Linked DNA regions of Homo sapiens: region 2 is linked to region 1. Evidence: fine-mapped expression QTL. Tissue or cell type: monocytes. Region 1 holds a variant in brackets; the other region holds the start of a gene. All regions are shown on one strand. Distances are between the middles of the regions.

What was found. PIP is the estimated chance that this variant, and not a neighbour inherited with it, causes the effect.
Region 2: it holds the start of NFKB1, and the variant in region 1 is fine-mapped to the expression of NFKB1 in monocytes (Quach 2016, PIP 0.95).

The regions. Positions count from the first base shown.
Region 1 is chr4:103,138,230-103,146,339 of GRCh38, forward strand. CENPE (centromere protein E) reads right to left here. Exons shown (of 49, transcript NM_001813.3): 30 at 7,600-7,878; 31 at 7,294-7,452; 32 at 6,821-7,105; 33 at 6,102-6,389; 34 at 5,019-5,177; 35 at 3,521-3,679; 36 at 2,585-2,875; 37 at 2,027-2,185; 38 at 1,560-1,850; 39 at 122-220. Among named protein-coding and RNA genes, the nearest start is that of BDH2, 42 kb to the left of the region's middle. The variant C/CA (reference allele first, on the strand shown) is at 4,774.
Region 2 is chr4:102,497,849-102,505,958 of GRCh38, forward strand. It overlaps NFKB1 (nuclear factor kappa B subunit 1), which reads left to right and starts at 3,511. Exons shown (of 24, transcript NM_003998.4): 1 at 3,511-3,940. It overlaps NFKB1-AS1 (NFKB1 antisense RNA 1), which reads right to left and starts at 4,638. Exons shown (of 5, transcript NR_136202.1): 1 at 4,591-4,638. RefSeq lists silencers at 3,191-3,450, 3,461-4,030 and an enhancer at 4,141-4,190.

The sequences.
Region 1 (8,110 bases):
TTTAGAAAAATACTGAGCACTATCTATTTATTCCAGAGGTTCCTTCAATCCCACTTCAGGTTTCGGTAAGCCTTTGGAAGACAACCAATAATCATTTGTAGTTTTAACAGGGGGTACTTACTTTTATTCTAGAGCACTTTTCTCTCAGGCTTTCCGTAAGGTGCTGTTGTCCATCACTTAGTAACCTTTTTTCAGGTTTTACTTGGTGGTTCTGTCGGTCCTGCTTTGGTAAAAAGAAAATAAACAGGGCTTTTGTCATGACTATATTCACATATAATGTCTAATCGCACACTTCTAAATTACATGACATTTCAATAATGGAATTAAATATTATACTTGTCACTCAAAAGCAATGTTAAAATGATCAGAAAATGAATAATAGTATCAGTAAGTTTTATAGGGAGTGACCTTAACTCATTGGTAAAAAAGTAGAAAAATCATCTAATTTTTGGAGACAGGATTTGTTTTTCATAGCTACAAATTAGGTTTTAGGGCCAGGCATGGTAGCTCACGCCTGTAATCCTAGCACTTTAGGAGATCGAGGCAGGAGGATCACTTGAGCTCAGGAGCTCAAAACCAGCCTCAGCAACATAGTGAGACCCTGTCTCTATAAAAATAAATAAATAAATAAATAAACAACCAGGAAAACAAATAAATTAGATTTTAATTTCTGATTCCTACTCTTCCAAATCTCTGCATTATTCACTTGTAGTTTTAACAGTGGCACTTGCTTTTATCCTAATGCACTTTATTGGCGCCAACCAAATATACTGGCAAAACCACCTGTACTGTCTATGGTGTTTCAAACCCTAGTCATATATTCTTCCCAGCACCTTGGAAAAGTTCATATCCTGTGTACATTTTGCATTTCTGATTAAAAAGTATAAAGTGAAACAAAAACATTTTCTCCCACTTATCTTGTTCACTACAGTACCTAGAAGAATATTTGATGAATGAATTAAATCTCTCTATAAATTTAGTTCAGGCCCACATAAAGAAATATGAGAATAAAAAAGATTTTTACAGATTTTAATAAACTTGTCTGAACTCTGTTACTTTCAAAAAGAGGATTTAATTAGATATTTTAAGATATATGATTCTGAATATCTATAAATAGTCATACCAGAGGAACTTAATTTTTATATTTATCTTCCCTTTTTTCCTTTTAACTTCACCAATAAGAGCCCAACTCTAGAACTCCAGCATGTATAGGTAGAGAAATGGGAATATTTGCTCTCTTACAAATCTAATCCTTCAAATATTTCTCCATTTAGAATAATGCTATCTCTTGATTAAAAAAAACTTTAAAATGTTATATTAAGGGAAATAGACTGCTTTAACACAGTTTATAAAAATAAAGAATTAAATGTTATTTTCTGAAAATATTTTTGCTTCTTTTAAAACTGTTTTCTATTGTGTAAAAATTAGAGTAACCATTTCCCACTGTCCTTTACTGTTCATAGGAATTTCCAGAGAAAGAAATAAAAACATTGTAATTCTTTTCAAAAAAGCTTAATTCTTATTAATAGTTACTACACAAAGGAAGACTCTGAACTCACTCTAGCTATCATTTCCCTTAAGGTTGCTATGAATTGGTCCCTTTCCATTTTGAGAGATTCTTTTATCCTCCTTAGCTCATCTCTTTCTTTAGCTACAATTCTTATTTCTTCAAGGCTTTCATGAAGTTTCTTAGTCAACTGGAAGTTATCCATTCTCACACTTTGCATAGATAAGTTTTGGGCCTCAAATTGCTTCTTCAACTGTTCCATTTCATTAATTTTTTTATGACTCATATTGACATCTTCTTTCACTCTAAGCAGTTGAAGTTCTTTTTTCTGAAGTTCTTGGATCTTGAGATAATTGTAAAACAAGTTAGAATGTAAGCAGTTTCTTCAAGGAAGGCAAATAGTGTCTACTTGTGTTCTATATGCACATATCTATCTACATATCTGTATCTATATCTTTTTAATTCCACAAATAATTTTGGGCACAGTTACTTCCAAAAGAAGAACAAAACAACACATACCTTTTTCTGTAATTCATCTTTTGATTTATCTAAATCCTTTTGAATGTCTGAAATTTGAATTGTCTTTTCTGAAATTTTTTCTCTAAGTTTATCAACAGTTTCTTTGTGTTCTTTTGATAGCATACGAGCAGTTTTTAGTTCCTGTTGTATTTCCAGATCCTTTATGGTTAGAAGAAATCAAGAAATGTAATGATATAAAGGCACGTTACCTTTACTTAATGATTGAGTTTAAACAAAATCTTAAAAATTATACACTCACAGTTAAAAACAACCATTATACAACCTCCTAAATTAGAAGAGTAAAGTAAAATTTTCTGCTGGTAGCCTCACCCATAGCCTTCTCCTTTCATACCACTTGGACATCTTTCTAAATCAATATCACAAAAAGAATACCCCATTCTTATGCTTAGTTTTCCATTATACAGATAGTGCCTTATTATTGGTGGACACTTAGATTATTTCTAGGTTTTAGTCACCAGACACAACGCTGCAGTGAACACTGTATTTTTGCCCAAATATGTGAATATAATGGTAGGGTAAAGAGAGAACACAACTCACTCTAGCTTTGGTTTCTTGCAGGCTTTCCTTGAGTTGGTCTCTCTCCAGTTTGAGTGTCTCCTCTACTCTTCTTAGATTATCTCTTTCTTTCATTACAGATTTCATTTCTTCAAGGTTTTCATGAAGTTTCTGAGCCAAATTTAAATTCTCTATTTCTAATTTACTCAGAGTTAAGCTTTGGTCTTTTATTTGTTTCTTTAGTTGCTCCATTTCAGACACTTTTTTCTGTGTCTCATTGACATCTTTTTTTAACGTAATAAGTTGATGTTCATTTGCCTTAAGTTCTTGAATCTTAAGATAATCATAAAATAATATGTTAGGTGGCTTTTTAGGGACAGATAAATAATAGTTTCTAAATTGATTAAGACAACTGTCTACCCATGTTACTCTCACTGATATCCTGCACAATTCCACACAGAATTTTACTTTCTTTTGAGGTATAATATATATAAAGCATGCTCATCTTCAATGTATAACTTAATTATTCTTGACACAGGTGTAAATCTATGAAACTACAACCCAGATTAAAACAGAGAATATTTCTAGCACTTCATAAAGTTTCTGTGTGCTCCTTCCTAGAGACAGCCACTATTCTGACCTTTATCATCCTGGTTCAGTTTTGCCTGCTTTTGAACCTATATATCACAATGTATGTATCCATTTTCCTGCTGATAGACATTTGAGTTTTCAGTTTTTTGTTATTTTGAATAAGGCTGCTATAAACATTCTTGTGTCTTTTTATAGAAGTATGTACGTACTCTTTTCTCTTATGTACATACCCAAGAAGTGGAAATGTTGGGCCTCAGGCAGGCTACATCCAGCATTAGTAAATACTGCCAAGGTGTTTTCCAGTGTGGTTGAACCATTTTATATCCCCAACAATTTTAGGCACAAACAAATTAGATATCCAATCAAACAATCCCCCCATAAAAATACCTTTTCTTGTAATTTAGCATTTGAATTTTCTAAATCTTTTTGCATATTTGATAGTTTATCTGTCTTCTCAGAAACAATTCCTCTGAGTTTGTCAATAGTTTCCTGCTGCTCTTTCAGATGCATGTGAGCAATTCTTAGTTCCTCTTGTATTTTCAGATCCTTTACCATTAGAGAAATTTTAAAAACAGTGACATATCTTAATATTAGTTTTTAAAAAATAAAGTGATATATTTTCTTAGTAAAAATAATAACACTGTTACTCTATATCTTTGCTGTTGTTTTTAAGGTACAGGCTTTCTCTTCCCTGTCCTCCTCTCTTCACACTCTACTTCTGCTTTCCAGAGGCAAACACATTACACATATATTACTTTTTTTAAGTGTTGCATAGTATTTCGATATATTGTTCATATTTACTGTTTCCTTCTGAGGAACATTTAGATTGTTTCAGATTTTTAATTAAAATCACTACAATAAATAACCTGTGGCATATGTATACGTTGTGTTTGTATATACACACACACTCCTTTAACAGTATATATGTAGGCTAAAGTCCGTAAGGAAAATGATAATTGCAGACTTGAACTTTTCAAGAACAGTACCAAATTATCTGCTTAAAAGGCTGTATCATTTCATTCTTGCCAACAGTAGTACTTGGTTCAAAGAAGGGTTCATTGCTGTAAGAACACAATACATTGAATTGCCAGGGAGAGGAATGAGCTTACTTTAGCTTCTATTTCTCTAAGGCCTTCCCTAAGTTGGTCTTGCTCCATTTTAAAGATTTCCTCTACTCCTCTTAGGCCATCATTTTCCTTAGTAACAAATCTTACATCCTGAAGGTTTTCATGAAGCTTCTGAGTCAATCTTAATTTCTGCGTTTCTACACTTTCCAGAGTTACATTCCAGGCCTCTAACTGCTTCTTTAACTGACCTGTTTGATACATAGTTTCCCTAAGATCATTTTTTACTTTAAGAAGTTGAGGCTGGGCCTGGCGGCTCATGCCTGTAATCCCAGCACTTTGGGAGGCCGAGGCGGGTGGATCATGAGGTCAGGAGATCGAGACCACCCTGGTCAACACGGTGAAACCTCCTCTCTACTAAAAATACAAAAATTAGCTGGGTGTGATGACATGCATCTGTAATCCTAGTTACTTGGGAGACTTGAGGCAGGAGAATCGCTTGAACCCGGGAGGCAGACATTGCAGTGAGCCGAGATCATGCCGTTGCACTCCAGGCGACAGAGCGAGACTCTGTCT[C/CA]AAAAAAAAAAAAAAAAAAAAAAAAGAAGTTGATGTTCTTTCTCCTGAAGTTCTTGGATCTTGAGATAATCATACAATAAGTTAGGATTATCAGTAGATATAAAAAGATCAATGATAGTTTCTAAATTGAGTAGGCAAGTAAGTCTTCACTTGCCTTCAATTTTAGGGTAATTCATATCTTGTTTCATTACACAAAAAGTTTGATTCAAACTCTCAGTAACTGAGATAACTTAAAAATAAAATACCTGTGCTTTTAAGGCATCATTTGAGTGTTCTAAGTCCTTTTGCATATTTGATATTTCATTTGTTTTCTCTGAAACAATCCCTCTTAGTTTATCAATAGTTTCTTGGTGCTCCTTCAGATGCATGTGAACAATTTTTAGCTCCTCTTGTTTTTCTAGGTCCTTTATCAATAGAAAAATAAAAATAATACATTGAGAGTAGTACCATCCACATGCTATAGAAAGGTATAGGGCAGGAGGTAAAAATCTTCCACCCTCTTCTGAGGCCTCCTAGTTCTCACCCTCTAAGCTACTTTTAGATGTCAATACATTCTAGATACACTATTCCTGAACTTACCCTGTTCCCTAACAGGACACTTCACCCTTCAAATCAGCACTATAGCTCTACCACATTTTTTATTTGTGGCATAGAATTCCATGACGTGAATGTGCTGCACTTATTTAACCAGTCCCTTACCAATGGATGGTTAGAATTTTCCCTGTTTTTGTTTGTGTTATTTCATTATTGCAACTTGTTGCAAAGAATATCCTACAAATATCTTTATACAGTTGTGCAAATGTGTGGAGGATAGTTACAACTGGACTTGTGGATCAACGAATAAACCTTTGGAAAAATTTGGAAGGTATTTCCAAATATACCCTCACCAACTTTCCTCAATATTGGACCAATTTTATCTTATTTTATTATTTTTTATTTTATTTTACTTTTTGAGATGGAGTCTTGCTCTGTCGCCCAGGCTGGAGTGCAGTGGTGCGATCTTGGCTCACTGCAACCTCCGCCTCCTGGGTTCACGCCATTCTCCTGTCTCAGCCTCCCAAGTAGCTGGGACTACAGGCGCCCACCACCACGCCTGCCTAATTTTTTATGTTTTTAGTAGAGATGGCGTTTCACCATGTTAGCCAGGATGGTCTTGATCTCCTGACCTCGTGATCTGCCCGCCCTGGCCTCCCAAAGTGCTGGGATTACCGGCTCGAGCCACCGCGCCCGGCCTGGACCAATTTTATACTCCCACCAACCCTATGGCAGATTTTTCTCTTAGGACTCAATGTCATAGTTACTAGAGGTGTAGAGAGATGGTAACTCACTCTAGTTATAGTTTCTCTAAGGTTTTCCTTGAGCTGGTCTCTCTCTACTTTGAGAGTCTCCTCCACACTCCTAAGGTCATCTCTTTCTTTTGTTACAGATCTCATTTCTTCAAGGTTTTCATGTAGTATCTGAGTCAACCTTATATTCTCCGTTTCTATGTTTTCCAGGTTTAACTTCTGGGTCTCAAATTGCTCCTTCAAGTGTTCTATTTCACACATTTTCTCCTGAGTCTCATTGACAGCTGTCATCTTAAGAAACTGATATTCTTTTTCTTGAGATTCTTTCATCTGAGAAAATTATAAAGTAAGTTACAACATAGGCAGAATTTTTTTAGGAAAAGGAAGAACTGTTCCTAAAATAAGGCAATCATTTTTACATTGTAATCTAATGTATGTAGTACTTTCTTTCATAAGGGATATGAGTAACAATAATTAGATGTCATTTTCCAATTTAACAAGTCCCACTTTTTCCTGTAATTCACCATCAGAATTTCCTAAATCCCAATGAATATTTGCTACTTGAGCTGTCTTCTCTGAAATATTCTGTCTACTAACAGTTTACTGGTACTCAGTTGAATATAAGCAGTTTTTGATTCCTCTTTTATTTCCGGTCCCTTTATGATTAGAGGAAAATTAATAAAACTTAACATGAACACCGTCATTATCACCTTAACACTATTTCTGTATCCAAAAAAAAAAAAAATAAGATGGGAACTTACTTTAGCTACAATTTCTTTAGTGTTTTCTTTCAGTTGGTCTCTCTCTATCTGAAGGGCCTCCTGTACTCTTTTCATTTCCTCTTTTTCCTTAATCATAATTTGTATTTCTTCTTGACTTTCTTGAAGTCTGTTGGTCAACTCGAGCATCTTACTTTCTATACTTTGTAGTGCTGAATCCTTGGCTTTGCGATGCTCCTTGAATTGTTTCAGTTCATTCACTTTTTCCTGAACCTCACTAATTTGTTTTATATTAAATTGTTCCTCTTTCTCATAAATCTCTTGGATCTTAAACATAATTATAAAATAAGTTAATAGTCATAAAAATATGTAAACACACACACACACATACACAACTTAAGAGGAAAAGGTTGCTTCCCAAAACAATTAAGCATGCCAAATAGTAGTCTTCATAATTCAGTTAGCTACTCCAAACCCACCCATTTCCTCCCACTGTTTCTTCATCCCCAATTTACCTTGTTCTGTAATTTATCATTGATTGCTTCTAACTGCTTTTGAATGGTTGATATTTCAGTTTCCTTCTCTGAAAGATTCACTCTTAACTCATTAATAGTTTCCTCTTGTTCTTTCAGGCAACAATGAGCAACTTTAAGTTCCTCTTCAGTTTCCAGGTGCTTTATTATTAGAGGAAATTCCAATAAATTTATAGAAACATTATAACTATTTTGTTGTAATTAACTCCCCTTTCCAAATATTTAGGGTTTATAATAATATTTGGTTACAAAATATTTTTTAAAAACATGGTGAAAGATGAAACCTACTTTAGCTACAATTTCTTTTATGTTTTCTTTGAGCTGGTCACTTTCAGATTGAAGAACTTCTTGCAGCCTCTGTAGGTCATCTTTCTCCTTAGCTACAGATTTCATTTCATCATGACTTTCTTGAAGTCTTTTGGACAATCCGAGCATTTCTATTTCTATCCTTAGTAGTGCTGAATCTTTGGGTTTGAATTGCTCCATCTCACTCACGATTTTGGTAGTTTCATTGTCTTTTTCTTTCATATTTAAGGACTGTTCTTGTTTGCTTTGAGACTCCTGGATCTTAAGAGAATCATAAAACAGTACAGTTGATATCCAGAGATATTGTGTTTTAGGGGAAAATAAATCAGGATGCTTTCTAAAACAATTAAGGCAGGATTCAGTGCCTCATTTACAGAGCAATCTCTCCATTCTCCCACTCTTCCATTATTCAGGCATTTAATGCTTTTTAAAAATTGAGGTCTCACTGTGTTGTCAGCATCTTATTCGAGGCTGGAGACAAAATGATGAGACT
Region 2 (8,110 bases), 640 kb before region 1:
TGGATAATAGTTTAGTGTGGTGGTTAATATCATGCACACTGGAGCCAAATCTGTTAGGTTCAAATCCTGACTCTCCTTCTATTTACTAATTATGAAACCTTAGGAAAATTATTCAACTTTTCATCTGTAAATATGGGGATTATAATGGTGATCCACTTTATATGACTGACAACCAAATAAGTGAATACGTGTATAGCAGGTATTAACCATATGCTTAGCCGACCTATTTCAACCTCCTAACCAACCAGAAGAACTGTAGTTCCCTGCTCTCTTGCATCTAAGTGGGGCCATGGAATGTGGGCAGAAGTGTTGTGTCACCTTTACTCAGAGGCAATTAAAAAGAAGACATACTTTTCCTATGTTCTCATTGCCAATGAACACACTACACAGATCTCAACCTCAGAATTCTCTCCACACTGGTATTTCCAAAATAGCTTCATGAGAAGGGAAATTTGTGTAGTTTCAATGATTTAGTGATGCTATGGTTTGGGTATTTGTCTCCTCTAAACCTCATGTTGAAATGTGACCCCAATTTTGGAGGTGGGGCCTAATGGGAGATGTTTCGGTCATGGAGGTGGATCCCTCACAAATAGATTGATGCTATTCCCTGCAAGGAGGAGAGGATGAGTGAGTTCTCACTGCATTAGTTCCTATGAGAGCTGGTTGCTAAAAAGTTTGGCATCTCTCCCCTCTCTCTCGCCATACGATCTCTCTGCACACACCACCCGCCTTTGCCTTCCATTGAGTGGAAGCAGCCTGAGGCCCTCACCAGACGCATATGCTGGTGCCATGCTTCTTGTACAGTCTGAAGACTGTGAGCCTAATAAACCTCTTTTCATTATAAGCTACCTAGTCTTGTGTATTCTGCCATAGCAACACAAATGAACTAAGACAAGTGACAAACACAAAATAACTTGTCTTTTAGACAATATTGATGTCTGAAATTCCACATTGAGGCATTTTTTTCCTCTTCGTAGCCTGATAATGGCAAATACCTTCTGACACCTTAGGATGGATGAATTTGTAAGAGATATTCCTGGAAGCAGGTTTGTACAGTGTAGAGAAAATGTTGGGTAACAAAGCAGGAATGGAGGAGGGTTAATCAGCAAGCCAAAAAGCTTTTATAGTTTTGCCTGCTGTGCTGCATGGAATTACATCCCCCCAAAACATATGTTCAAGTCCTAACCACAGGTACCTGTGAACATGAGTTTATTTGGAACTAGGATCTTTGCAAATGTTATCAAGTTAAGATGAGGTAATACTGGATTGGGGTGGGCTCTAAATCCAATGACTGGTGTCTTCATAAAAGAAAGGTGAGGGAGAGTTGAATATAGCGACACAAAGGAAACACGGGGAAGGAGACCATGTGACAATGTAGGCACAGAATGGAGTGTTGCAGCCAAGCCAAGAATGGCAAGGATTGCTGGAGCTACCAGAAGCTAGGAGGAGGCAAAGGATTCTTCCCTAGAGCCTTCAGAGGGATCATGGCCTTAATGGCACCTTGAGTTCAGAATTTTAGGCTCCAGGACTGTGACAGAATAAATTCCCGTTGTAAGCTGTTCAGTCGGTGGTAAATTTTTACAGCAGCCCCAGGAAAATATGCCTGCTCAACACCCTACCCTGAATTTTAAGTTCATTTTATGGAATCATTTTGAGTTTGGAGTTTGATTTAATCCTTTTCAGTAATTAACGCTCTTCATTTTTTACTCCCAAATATGTCACACTGGCTCTACTCTTATAACAATTGTATTTATCTATCTTTTGGTAATGGGGCTGCCACCCCTTGCAGAATGAAAAGTAGAGTGTGTATGCTCACACCTCCCTCCCTCCCTCCCTCTCTCCCTCCCTCTCTCTTTCTTTCTTTCTCAGAGTATCGCTCTGTCTCGCCCAGGCTGGAGTGCAGTGGCGCAATCTTGGCTCACTGCAACCTCTGCCTCCAGGGTTCAAGCGATTCTCCTGCCTCAGCCTCTGGAGTAGCTGGGATTACAGGCGCCCGCCACCACGCCCGGCTAATTTTTTTGTATTGTTAGTAGAGATGGGGTTTCACCATATTGGTCAGGCTGGTCTCAAACTCCTGACCTCAGGGGATCCACCCGCCTTGGCCTCCCAAAGTGCTGGGATTACAGGTGTGAGCCACCGCACCCGGCTCACAGAATTTCTTAAAAAGTCATTGTGTTCAGTCTTTATGGATCCTCTAAATTCCAGCTGCTCAGCCTCCCGGAGCTAAATGAGATCACTTAAAGGTCGACTGTTGGGGCCTCCAAGGTCGCCTCGGAGACTCACCTCATAGGCAATCAAATGGATCGCTGGGTTTTTGTGTGTGTGGGTTTTTTTTGTTTATTTTTTTTTTCCAGAAAAACACTCCACCAAGAAGGTTTTTATAACCTACTGGAGGAGGAGGATGGAGAGTGGGCACGAAAGGACTAGGATGAACATGCCATAAGCAATCTAAATGCCACTGCAATATTGCCTGGTGAGGACCTGATTACTGATGTTTTAAAGCTAAGCTTTCAGTTGTCACTCCACCCAGTAGTGAAACAATGAGCTCTAAAATATATATTTCGGCTCAAGCTTTCTTATGTGGGGAGGTAATCCACCCGAAGGTATCCCCAGCCTGTACCTAATACAGTGCCCAGCACTAAAGCAGCTCAGATGCCAGTGAATGGTGGCCACTGGGAGGCCTGTCAGTGGGTGCCAGTAGCGGTCTCTTCAGAGAAAAAGAAAACTCCCCTCTGCCAGATCAGTATTTTATGAGCTGTGAACCAAAACCATTGCTACCACCATCACTATAATTCTATCCACAGTAATTATCATAAAGGCCTAACAATGCCTTGTAGATGAACATTCTGAGTAACTGCTCTATAACCAGGAGATTTAAGACCGCACCAAAAACCAGTAGAGGGTTATACTTTACTGGGCACAAGTCGTTTATGATAACGAAATTGTAGTTTAATCTGTGAAGAGATGTGAATGTAACTGAGACACGCTTAAATGGAATATACAGATGAGCTTTATTTTTATATCTGGCATGCTTGGATCCATGCCGACCCTCCAGCTGCTCGGGCCTGCCCTTAGGGGCTATGGACCGCATGACTCTATCAGCGGCACTGCCACCGCCGCCGCCTCCGTGCTGCCTGCGTTCCCCGACCATTGATTGGGCCCGGCAGGCGCTTCCTGGGGGCTTCCCTACCGGCTCCAGCCCTTGGGATTCGGGAGCGCCCTGCTAGGAAGCCAGAGCCCCGCAGGGGCCGCGGCGTCCAGGCCGCCTAACGCGCGCCCCTCGCCCGGCGCCCCGAAGCGGCCCCGAGGGGCGGGAGCCGAGGCGAGCGGCAAGGCCGGGCCGGGGGCGCACAGCGCCCCTAGAAGTGCGGGCTTCCCCCACCCCCGGCAGCGACCCTACCTCCCGCCCCCGCTGCGTGCGCGCGTGTGTCCGTCTGTCTGTATGCTCTCTCGACGTCAGTGGGAATTTCCAGCCAGGAAGTGAGAGAGTGAGCGAGACAGAAAGAGAGAGAAGTGCACCAGCGAGCCGGGGCAGGAAGAGGAGGTTTCGCCACCGGAGCGGCCCGGCGACGCGCTGACAGCTTCCCCTGCCCTTCCCGTCGGTCGGGCCGCCAGCCGCCGCAGCCCTCGGCCTGCACGCAGCCACCGGCCCCGCTCCCGGAGCCCAGCGCCGCCGAGGCCGCAGCCGCCCGGCCAGTAAGGCGGCGCCGCCGCCCGGCCACCGCGCGCCCTGCGCTTCCCTCCGCCCGCGCTGCGGCCATGGCGCGGCGCTGACTGGCCTGGCCCGGCCCCGCCGCGCTCCCGCTCGCCCCGACCCGCACTCGGGCCCGCCCGGGCTCCGGCCTGCCGCCGCCTCTTCCTTCTCCAGCCGGCAGGCCCGCGCCGCTTAGGAGGGAGAGCCCACCCGCGCCAGGAGGCCGAACGCGGACTCGCCACCCGGGTAAGCCAAACTCGGGCGAGTGGGGGCCCGGCAGGGGACGCGTGGCCCAAGTCCTGCCGCCCAGCCCTCCGCACCCCCTCCAGCCCCACTCGGACTTCCTCATTCCTGCGCTAACCGCTGGGCTAGACCGTGGGAGGAGGTTGACAGTAGCTGAGAGGCACATGGGATTAGCGACAGCGGGGAAAGACACATCCGGACCTCGCAGGGGCTAGTCGGCCGAAGGGCCGCGGCCGCCCGGCGGTCATTTCTCTTCACGTCCCTCCGCGGGGCGGGAACGCGAACCGGAGGGGAACTCTTACAAACTTTTAAAATCCCCAACCCCAGCCCCACCTGGGGGATGGTGAGAAGGTTGGAGTGCGCTGCGGCGCGGAGGAGAGAGGGAAGGTGGTTGGTGCAGTGCAGAACCAGATTTCACCTAAGGGCGTTCCATGAAATGAAAGCAGAAGTGCTTGTCAGTCCTCTTGGCTGGGAAAGCCCTCCCCAGCTCCCCAGAATTGAATAGGAGAGTCTATTCATCCCTCTCCTACTTCTAAAAGAAACCTGGCTCGCTCTCTGTCTCTCTCTCTCTCCCCCCTCCCCCCCTCCGTGCGCGCGCGCGCGCGCACACACACACACACACACACACACACACACACACACGATATAGTCACCTGCTATAGGACTTGATTCTGATCCTCCGGGGCCTGGCATTTGAGAGAGAAAATAAATTACCTACCTGGATACTTAGAGCACTTTTTAGACTTGATTATGTAAAACTCTTGGACAGTGCCACCATGCATTATGCATGACCGCTGAAACAAAAATAATGTAAAAACAAGGCCTATCCTAAATGCAAGTTTTTCTATGGTCCTTAAAAACAGACACCAGGGAATGTTTGCCCTGACTTGCTGGTTTATCCTGAAACTCAAATGGGACTTAATGATACAGGATTTAATTATCAAGATTGACATGTTCATGGACTTTGTTAAGTAGAGGTTTTCAGCATTACAGTTTATGAAATAACCATATTTAACTCAAAGATTTTTTTATAAAGCTCATAATCTGAAAAAATGCTTATGGTATTACTAAAACATTTAATAGCTCTGGCATCAAAATATTCTACATACTGGTGATCTTTTAGTAAATAGTAAAGGTTAGGGTCAAGATATTCAATAATTTTTTTCTAGCAGAATCCCACAACTGAATATTGTCAAGCAGTTTAAACTGCATTCGTGTTTGTTAAAACTTTAAAAGGGAAACTTAAAACTAAAGTATGTTGTTTTTCTGATTTTAATATTGTGCTTTCTAGAGATGAATCCTTTTACTGTTTGAGGCACTATAGGAATTATGTATTTAAATGTATGTATTTAAATTTGAAGCAATGTACTTTTTTGAGTTTATAAACTTGGGAAGACAGGAAATAAAAAGATTTGTTTCCTGTAGAATTTTACATTCATGATTTAATTGAATTGCTAAAATGGAAAGAACATGTACGATTAATGGAGACTTGGAATCTGAGATTATTCATCCATATTGATACACCTGCAATTCCTAAATGCCCTCCCCTGCTTGTTTAGATAAAATGTCTTCCTGGGCTGCAGCCTACTGGACAAACTTGAACACAAAGGAACACACGTTATATGTACATTTAATACTGGAACCGAAAAGCTGCTTGCAGTGAAAAGCAAACCACTTCTAAACTCTTTGAGACTTTTTAAAGAAGGTAGTATAATCCTTTTAGGGGTTGGTGGTGATGTGAAAATCTATTATCTTTTTGCTGAAATTTCATTCTTATGTTAGGCATTGGCACTCACTTGTGCTGAGTAAATGCCCGTGTTTTTCAAACCCAGATAGTAAATACTGGGGGTATACATACAAAAATAGTCCTTCCCCTTTGTAAGCATTGCTTTGATCTTTGCACTTCCTTTTTACTCTACCTCTTAAACAAGATCTGTGTTGATTGAGTTGATTAAAGCACAATTAATCTGAAATAGGCAGAATTTTAGATTTAGTGATTATATTCCTTACATTTCTGTTGTTACTGTTCCTGGAAACAAATTGAAGTAGTTTGAGAAACTAATATTTATGCAGGTTGTTTTAACTACACTTTTAGACTTGCAGATAATTGATTAAGTAAGTTACTACCTTGACTTTCAGGGATTGCTCATTGTGGTAGATACGAGGTCTAGATAGGGAATTGGCAGCTACATGAATGTTGGACTATCATTCCATCAGCAAGACCTTATTTTTACCTAATTTATGAGAGGTATTTCTCTGTTCAGAAGAGGTGAAAGTTCTGGCTTCTGGGGGGAAGTGGTTACTTCATAACCTTCAATTGGTTTGAACTTGGGAGAAGTAAGAAAAGTAGTCGATATTTTCAAACAGTAAAATAATTGTATCTGAGTTGCTGTATGGATTTTTGATGAAGTACTCAAAATGTCATCTTTTGCATCTTCGGGTCTTAGTAGATGTGCTATTCTGAGTATAGAATTGACTGCAGTAGGAAGTGTATCTGGAAATGCACAGTACTGTTGTATAACCAATAGAGTAAATTCTCAGATTATGCTCTTCTGGTCCACAGATTGATCAGAAATCACATTAACAGGAATGGATGTCTATGCAAAATTTCTCATTAATTTTCTTACTTTTAGTAGGAAGTTTGTTTTATTCGGTTGGTCTGTTGGTTTTCTGTTTACAAGGTGAATTGTCTACAGTAGTGGGATTGTTATATTAGAAGAGAAGGAGAAGGAAAAATAGAAGTTAGTGCTAGAGGATATGTTAAGATGTTCTGCTCCTACATCTACATTTGTGTCTAATCAGCATTAATTGATGACTACGTCTTGGTAAACAGTAGACCATACTGGAGCAATTTACTCTGCTTTTTGGGAATTAGTTCTCATTTGCACTCTTGCACCTCCCATAAATACTGAACTCACTTGTAGTGTTCTTAGAGGTCAGCAATAAACCATCAAGAGCATATGATCTCTCTTTGAATTTTGTCACTACTTTGGAGACAGACAGTTTGGAAGAACTGAAGGTACTCAGCCTCAGGGAGAAAGGTTTGAACGTTTTGGCATAGTCCTGCAAGTCAGTTTGGCTCCTTGACTGTGAATTTTTTTAATCAAAAAAGATTAATATTTGAAACCACATAATTTGGACAGTTAATAGTTCTGGTAACATAACCAAGCCTTTTATCTTTGTAGTATTTCATTAATTAGTATCCAGTGCCTCACTTTTAGAAGAAAAAAAGAGAAAAAAGTAGTAACATTCTTTTAATGATGATGAAATTGCTTCATACCTTTGGTCTCTGCTGTATTAGGGGTTGTTCCTGGGTGCAAATTAATATACTGTCTTTTACATTTCCGGAGGTTGTTGACCTGGCCTTGAAGATCAGCCAACAGTTTAGAAAATAAGTTGTGCAAATTGCATTGCTACACCTCAAATAATTTAAAGCCTGACAGTTCTGTACAGAATAAGAGTCACATAAGATGTGATTTGTTAAAGATTATAGAAATCTCAGAAGATAGATTATGGATGAAAATATTTGTTTAATTTAGAGTACTAATAATAAAAATAGTGCATTTTACATTTTAAAAAGAAAACAATTTTTATTGTGTCATATTTTCTGTAGTAACAAACAGAATTAATTATCAGTAATACAAATTTCATCTGCTTTAATTTATTGCCTGTTTTTGAAATTAGAATAATGATATATTTGGTTTAATTATCCATTACAAATTGCCTTATTATTTTTCATTCATCTTTCACCATTAATCCAGAAACCTTAAAATAGCTTTTATTTTGACCCATGCCTTCAGTAGATATCAACAGACTTGAGTTCATCTATGGATCCTATTAGTTTAAACTGTGACAAATTTTGACTGCTTAAGCTTTAGAAAAGAATTTATTCTTTAAAATAGCCAAAATTATAAAAAATGAAATAAAGAAAAAGCTGTTTGAGAGAATCAAATACTCTAGTTTAACTAAAAATAAATAATATCTAATCAATACTGACGAAAGAAATATCTGATGCTTAGCATTGTACTTGTTGGTACATAGTAAGCAATCATTAACTGTTAAATGAATGAATGATATGAAGTTGTTGCAAAATTTTTTTTTAAATGGACAGCCATCTTCTATAAGGAACAAAAATTACATTATTTTGCTTTGCCTTCTGGAAAGAAAGGAGCA